Homo sapiens: one gene and its partner. The protein of the gene in region 1 interacts with the protein of each later gene in a pairwise test. Each region holds a gene or a part of one and is shown in the gene's direction. Other genes may lie near its edges.

What was found.
Region 2: the proteins of RNF144A (region 1) and USP32 interact in a two-hybrid assay, tested with the Homo sapiens proteins (one large-scale study listed by BioGRID).

The regions. Positions count from the first base shown.
Region 1 is NC_000002.12:7,011,358-7,015,188, forward strand, and holds part of RNF144A (E3 ubiquitin-protein ligase RNF144A), read left to right. Parts: intron 1-3,096; coding exon 3,097-3,201; intron 3,202-3,354; coding exon 3,355-3,415; intron 3,416-3,831. UniProt on the Homo sapiens protein: E3 ubiquitin-protein ligase which accepts ubiquitin from E2 ubiquitin-conjugating enzymes UBE2L3 and UBE2L6 in the form of a thioester and then directly transfers the ubiquitin to targeted substrates.
Region 2 is NC_000017.11:60,206,909-60,210,739, reverse strand, and holds part of USP32 (ubiquitin carboxyl-terminal hydrolase 32), read left to right. Parts: intron 1-1,196; coding exon 1,197-1,370; intron 1,371-1,911; coding exon 1,912-2,086; intron 2,087-2,529; coding exon 2,530-2,681; intron 2,682-3,607; coding exon 3,608-3,719; intron 3,720-3,831. UniProt on the Homo sapiens protein: Deubiquitinase that can remove conjugated ubiquitin from target proteins, such as RAB7A and LAMTOR1.

The DNA.
Region 1 (3,831 bases):
TAAACTGGCTCATGTAAAAGTTTTCAATTGAGGAGTAAGTATACAAAAAATGTACAACAGACAAACATAAAACCTCACCAGCCTTGGAATCAGCCACATGTGGGTTTGAGCCCTAGTGCTTCTATTGAGCTGTTGTTGATGTCTCTGAGCCTTGGTTTTCTCATCTGTCATGTGAGCATGGTAACACGCCATATGACTTTTGTGCATGTTTACTGAGCTAACATAGGTAATGCAATTCACGTAGAATCTAGGACTTAGAAAGCATTTGTCTACTGCTATCTATAATGAGTGCAGTAGTAGGAAAATGTGTCAGTATCTGCTTTTAGGCTGTGTATTTTACAGAAGTTTCTCTGTTTACCTATTTTTGTGCTCATTTCAAGACATCTTTTTGCAATTAGAATGAAAACCATAGCTTGTGAGTCATGACCCACTTTATATCTGGAAGAAAGCTGGGCTTGTTTTTGATGGATGCAAGGTCAGGCGCTTGGAACGTCATCTCTCTTTATGTAGTGAACAAATTGATATTCCCAGAACATAATCCTTTTGCAGATTGTACAGATAGCTGCATCCTGATGACACATGATGTTCACTCTTGGGTAGCTTTGAAACCCAGACATGACTCACTACTTGTTGCATATGGGTGTACGCTTCATGCCACTTTTAATTGTTGTATTTTGCTTCTTAGGATGCGTCATGTTTTATCATTATATACTGATCCGCACAATATCCTGAGAGTCTTCAGCATCGTATATTGGTTTAACGCACTCCAGTATCCTCCAGAGACCCCATTTAGACAAACTTCATAATAGAAAGTAAAATAATGATCTTGTTGCTAAGGTTTTGGGATTTTTAAATACCTATAACTGTAAGAGACAAATCACGTAAGTAGACAAAAAAGAGACAACAGCCACTATTTACTTAGCTGGTGCTGTCTACCAGGAATTATGCCAGGTGCTTTCATAGATTACTGTCACAACAGCGCAGGAAGATGGGCCTTCTGGTTTTATTGTCAAGTGCAGGGAGATGGGCCTTCTGGTTTTATTGTCAAGTGCAGGGAGATGGGCATTCTGGTTTTATTGTCAAGGGAGCTGTTGCTCAAACTCTGACTTGAGGGACAAGGATTGGTTGAGCCTGTCTGGCTCTGAAGCCTACAATCTTTCTCCCTTGTCATGTGGCACCCAATCATAAACAGAAAGTTCCACTGATCTGCCAACTGTTCTGCTCATTGTTACAATGGTTCACCACTCTAGTAGTCCGCAGCGCCACTGCCACTTAACACGTCTGCGGATGGTTCCCAGAACCAGGCTGCAGCCCTGCTGGAGGCTGGGTGTGACTCCTCTCTTGCTCATCATCTGCCTCTCCCTTGTTCTGAAAGAAGTCTTTGCATTGGTTTTAATGAATTTATCTCTGAAAATTCTGCCATCTGGAGTCTCACGTAGAACTCCAAGCCTGGGGTCGTCCATACTCACTACTCTGGGAAATGTCTTCATAAACCATAGGTTGGTAAAATGTAGATGATCTGTGAAAACCTAAGTTTAGGGCCACTGCAATCATCAGAGCCCAGGCAGATCAAAAGAACACAGGCTGGAACACAGGGTTCAGTGTGGAGCCACCAACATTGTAATTTGTACTTGAAGTTACAGCTCTTGAGAAAAGCTTTGGGAAGTGGCTCTTTCTGAGGATTGCCTTGATTTTTGTTTTTTAAAGAAATTGCAATCTGGAGTCTTCAATGAATGAAATATTCTATTTTGCTAGGATGGGGAGAATTACCAGTTTAGATCAAATTATTCTTTATATATCAAGCATATACTCTTCTCTGTGTATTCTTCTATACTTTTTCACTTGCCTAATATTCTTACAACTCCACTGTGAGGTAGGTTAAACCACCCTAAATTGCAGATCAGGAAAATAAGGATGGTAGAGAGAGATTAATAGGCTTGTTCTAAACATGGAGGTAGAAGGAATTGCAGTTGAATTTCCATTTAGACCCATTCATTAGTAATAATCATGCATTCTTGTAATAAAATGGATTATACGTTTTTGCGGGGAGATGTCAGCTCAGCAAACATAGCTTATTAATTTTTCTTGATTAATTGCTATTATATTTTAATAATGGTATTGTAATATTATATATTGTTGCTAATATGAACTTTAAATATACTGGGACTGTGATTAAAGTTGATTTGGGGATGCCGTTGTAGGATTTTACATCATTTTCTATGCTCTTTGAGTTCTTATATAAGCTCTACATCTAGTTTCTCTTGGTAGTGAGCCTAGCTGGCAAAGGCCGTATTGTTTCTTCTCATTGCTGTTTATAATATGCTTTTCAGGGAAACACTAGATTTCTAAGACTAGTAGACTTTGTAAAGCAGGAGTGAAGACCACAGAATCTTTTATATTAACTCTACTTCATGTCCTTCACTTCTTCTTGTTTTGCTTACTTCAGGCTTTAAGCAGTGCCCCCAAGTAGGTAAGGTAGGTAGTGAGTAATTGCCTGGTAAGTGAGGCACCCTGAGTGAGGAATGCCAAATACAGTTGGGTTCTCAGCAGGGAGATCATGGGCATTTTGTCTGAGCAAGCTTGGGTTCACATCGAGGCTCTGGGTACTATTTGTGTAAGTTGGCAACTTCCTCCTTTGCTGACTCAGTTTTCACATATGAAAAATGGAACAGTCATACCTTTCTTGTAAAAATGCTCTAAGGCTTCAGTGAAAGACTGAGAGATAAAATATTTAATGCAGTGCCTGCATCTTATAGGCATTTGAGAAATATTACCTCCCAGCCTCCCTTGCTGCCTTTCATCTTGCTTTTAGAATTCTTGGCTCTTGTGTTTGCTGAGGTTTTGTGCCGGGATCTAACCCATAGCCTTAGCTTTGTGATTGAGCATACAGTCCCTGGCACAGAATGGGTACCCCATAAATAGTTGTTGAATGAATAAAACCTCAAAACCTCAAATGTGTTGGTTGCTGTGGACTACACAGTGAAAATATTAAACTGTAATGGAATGATGTGCCTGGTCCTTTTTTTAATGCATCATGGTTTCTTCAGCATTAAGGAGGTAAAGATGTTTATAGACACTTCTCTGTTTTTCTTTCAGTGCCTGAAACAGTATGTTGAGCTCTTGATCAAAGAAGGATTAGAAACCGCAATTAGCTGCCCAGATGCTGCCTGCCCTAAACAGGGCCACCTACAGGAGAACGAGGCATGTGCAATTGAACAGACTGGGCTGTTTGATGTGCACAGGCGTGCACTGCTGAACTTGTCAGAATAACGTGGGTTTTGTTTGGGTGTGCGTTGCATTATATTCTAGCCCTCAGCTTGTTATCATTCCTGTTTGCATTTTTTTTTCCCTTAGATTGAGTGCATGGTTGCAGCTGAAATTATGCAAAGATATAAAAAGCTACAATTTGAAAGAGGTAGGTGCCTGGTATATCTGCCGGTTATGATTCCTGTAATGTGTGAATGTGGATAATTTTGTGGGGAGTTCTTTTGGTAGATATGGTTATACAGCATTTGATAGGAGTTAAAAAGTTGATGTAAAATAAACTTCTGAAATTAAACTGACATTCTGGATTCTCTGAACAGCTCACAGTTTGAAGACCTTGTCTAGTGATCTATTTGGTAGCAGGAAGAATTTATGGAACACAATTTGTTTATAAGGATTGAGGCTCCTGGGGGAGGCTTAAAGTTGATGGCTCTCTTGAGGTATTATATTTCAGCCAGCTTAAGGCTGAGTTTGAGGGCTAAACTCTTGGACTGGCCCAGAAGTTAAAAGATGCAGAGTCATGGAGGGAAGTCGTGAGGGTAGGCATAGCAGAAATTACAGTAACCC
Region 2 (3,831 bases), on another chromosome or scaffold:
CCTTTTTTGGTAATACTTCACTATTAGCAGTATTCTAACTGCAAGGTGGACCTCAGAGTCTTATTAATTACATCCAATCCAATCCATTTTCAACGTAACTAAGATAGTTCTATCTGTAGAATACAAAGAAGTAGGCTGGGCGCAGGGGCTCACGCCTGTAATCTCAGCACTTTGGGAGGCCGAGGTGGGTGGATCACTTGAGGCCAGGAGTTCAAGACCAGCCTGGACAAGATGGCGAAACCCTGTCTCTACTAAAAAAAATTAGCCGGGCATAGTGGTGCATGCTTGTAATCCCAGCTACTTGGGAGGCTGAGGCACGAGAAACGCTTGAACCTGGGAGGTGGTGTTTGCAATGAGCCAAGATCGCACCACTGTACTCCAGCCTGGGCAACAGAGTAAGACTCTGTCTCCAAAAAGAAAAAAAAAAAGTAGAAGGATGAATGAATGAAACTAATGAATATAAGTTTTATATTAATATCAGATGTAGTAGATTTTAGTGAAGTTAGGATTATTCATTATTTTTATTTAAATACAAAGCAAAAGCTTTTTATATTACAAATTATTAACTATAACAGCTACACATTTGACTACTTACCTCTTGCCAGGCACTATTCTAATTAATTTATATCCTCAAAATAATTCTATAATATAATGCAGTTAATAAAATTTAGGATGCAACAAGACCAGAAAATGTAATTGTTGAAGACAACATTATATTATATAAAATAATGTATACACATATTATTTTATACATGTTATGTATTATTATATACACATTATTTTATGCATATGTTATGTATATACTATGTACCTATAAAATATACATATTTTATATGCATATAAAAATGTAAAACGTTATAGAACAGGATGTCTTTCAATGTGAGCAAACGCTGTTTTAATGTTTCTGTCTTAAATAACATCTGTGTGCCTGAAGAACAGTTTGCTTACATAATACTGAACTGAGGACACAGTATTGCACAGTATTGGCCAAAATACTTCTCTTTTTTTGGGGGGGGTCATTTGACATTAAGATTCAAAAGATTTCATGATTATCCAAAATATATTTGTTGAAATAGAGGCAGACTAAGTACTATACTATTTATTTTCTTACAATGGCTCTGATTGGATTATAGGACATGTTCATTCCAAATTTTATGGGTAGGAAATAATGACTGTGACTTCTCTTATATTTATAGTGGACCATAGCAAAATATGCTCCCAGGTTTAATGGGTTTCAGCAACAGGACTCCCAAGAACTTCTGGCTTTTCTCTTGGATGGTCTTCATGAAGATCTTAATCGAGTCCATGAAAAGCCATATGTGGAACTGAAGGACAGTGATGGGCGACCAGACTGGGAAGTAGCTGCAGAGGTTTGTCAGTTTTGAGTTTCTAATGTAAGCAATAGACAAAATGTTCTGGCCACAAATACATGTAGCACAACTTAAATGCAAACTCAACTATTCTGAGATCAGAACTTTACTGCAAAAATGAATGAATTTCTATTTCTGTGCTTAATTCTTATGCAATAATGCCAAAACAAAAATACGTTTAATGAAAATAGAAAACTGTTGCCATTTCATATTGTAAACTTTATGGGACTGGATGTAGGAATAATTATCCAGTGGAATTTAAAGAGTCCCCGTAATTGCTAAAGTAATGGATACAGTGACCTATAGGCATGCTTTATACTTGTTAATGGACAAATAACTTTAATATTTACCATTGTTACCTTGATAAGAACAAATGAAAAATAGGATTTTCCATCTCAATTTAATATTTTATGTTAAATGAAGAGTAAGGATTATATTCTTTACATTTAAATCCAATATATTTAACTAGCTTCTTTGAATTTATATAGAAATGCTTCTCTTTTGGATTTTGAGAGAAAATTCTCATCTTTTTTATTGCTAGGCCTGGGACAACCATCTAAGAAGAAATAGATCAATTGTTGTGGATTTGTTCCATGGGCAGCTAAGATCTCAAGTAAAATGCAAGACATGTGGGCATATAAGTGTCCGATTTGACCCTTTCAATTTTTTGTCTTTGCCACTACCAATGGACAGTTATATGCACTTAGAAATAACAGGTAGGTCAGAAAGTTCTGAAAAATTACTTGACTCCATTAAATTTACTTTATTTAAATAGCCTGAATTTGTAAGCATAGTTATTTGTTTACAAATAAAGACCGGTAGTCAGCATATTATAATTGAGCAACCTAATTTTAGGCATGACTTGAGGTTTGAAAGATGTAGACTGGGGCATGTTTTTTTGGTTTCAAATATGCCAGCAACTCTCTTTAAAACCCTGCAAAGCCACTGATACTTTTATGTCAGATGAACACCAAAAAAATACTGATTTCACTTAATATTATCCCTAAGTACCATCTGTTTTAGTGTTTACACATAAAATAAAAATTCTAGGCTGAAATATTTGCTATTATATTTACAGGTCAGATATATCTGTACACAGCATTTAAGACTTTCAATGAAACCTGCATTTTACCAATAAAAGATCTTTTCTCTTTACTAGTGATTAAGTTAGATGGTACTACCCCTGTACGGTATGGACTAAGACTGAATATGGATGAAAAGTACACAGGTTTAAAAAAACAGCTGAGTGATCTCTGTGGACTTAATTCAGAACAAATCCTTCTAGCAGAAGTACATGGTTCCAACATAAAGGTAATATTAACTACTCTAAGAAACTTTTGATTCTATCCTCCAAAGATGACATTTTTCTCAATTATTATGATCAATTGTTAGGTTATGTGACCAAGAGAGATACTAAAACATAACGAAAACTGAACAACAACAACAAAAAATGCCAAGTTTTCCAACCCAGAAACTTAAGAGTTTTCTACCAGAATAAAGGGATAATACTGATGGTGGTATTTTTGAAGAAGGGAAATACGTAAGGCTGCCTATATGGAGTGTTCTAGCTGTGTCACTATAGTATAGGTTTCCACCAAAGACTGCTGCTGTTACCAAAGACTGCTGCTATTACCCTTGACAACTCTTCTGTATTACCGCTGTTACTAGAATTCTTCCTAGGTTAAAGTATTTTATGTATTTATGAATGTGTGTTTTTAGTATTTATGAATATATATACTTGGTCTTTTAACACACTAAGAAATTAAGAGTAAAGACAAATTGACACCAATCATGTCTTTCTACATACCAGCTGGGGAAACAAATAATCTAATAAATATATTGCCTACTCTAAATTAAGCTCCTGCAACTGGTATTATTTATATTCATCTTTGGGATTTCTGAACACACTCTCACCTCACTGACAGTTTCTTAATATGAAATGCAAAAATGGAGTCTCTGAGGGTTGGAATTTAGATCCCTGAAACGGACAAAACTGAAGTCAGTCGTATATAACACACTTCTTCCTGTGAAAAGAGATAATAGTTCGAAAATTGAGGTTAGTTTTCCGTTATTTTTATCAAGCATTCATCCTTTATGTAGTTGAAAAATTATTCAATCATCTCGTTGGTTTTACGGATGAAAGCGCCTAAGACATTCTTTTGAAATATGTTAGAGAGAGAACTTTTCCATTTTATCTGAAACATCTCCCCCTTCTCATCTTGCTTCTGTTTCTGTAGAACTTTCCTCAGGACAACCAAAAAGTACGACTCTCAGTGAGTGGATTTTTGTGTGCATTTGAAATTCCTGTCCCTGTGTCTCCAATTTCAGCTTCTAGTCCAACACAGACAGGTAAGATAGAACTAGAACTCCTTCTCATGATTGCTCCTTTAAATATTTGTCTAAGAGTTGTCATCTTTTTTATATTTGTTCATGCTGAGGATATTATAGCAGAAGAATTTTG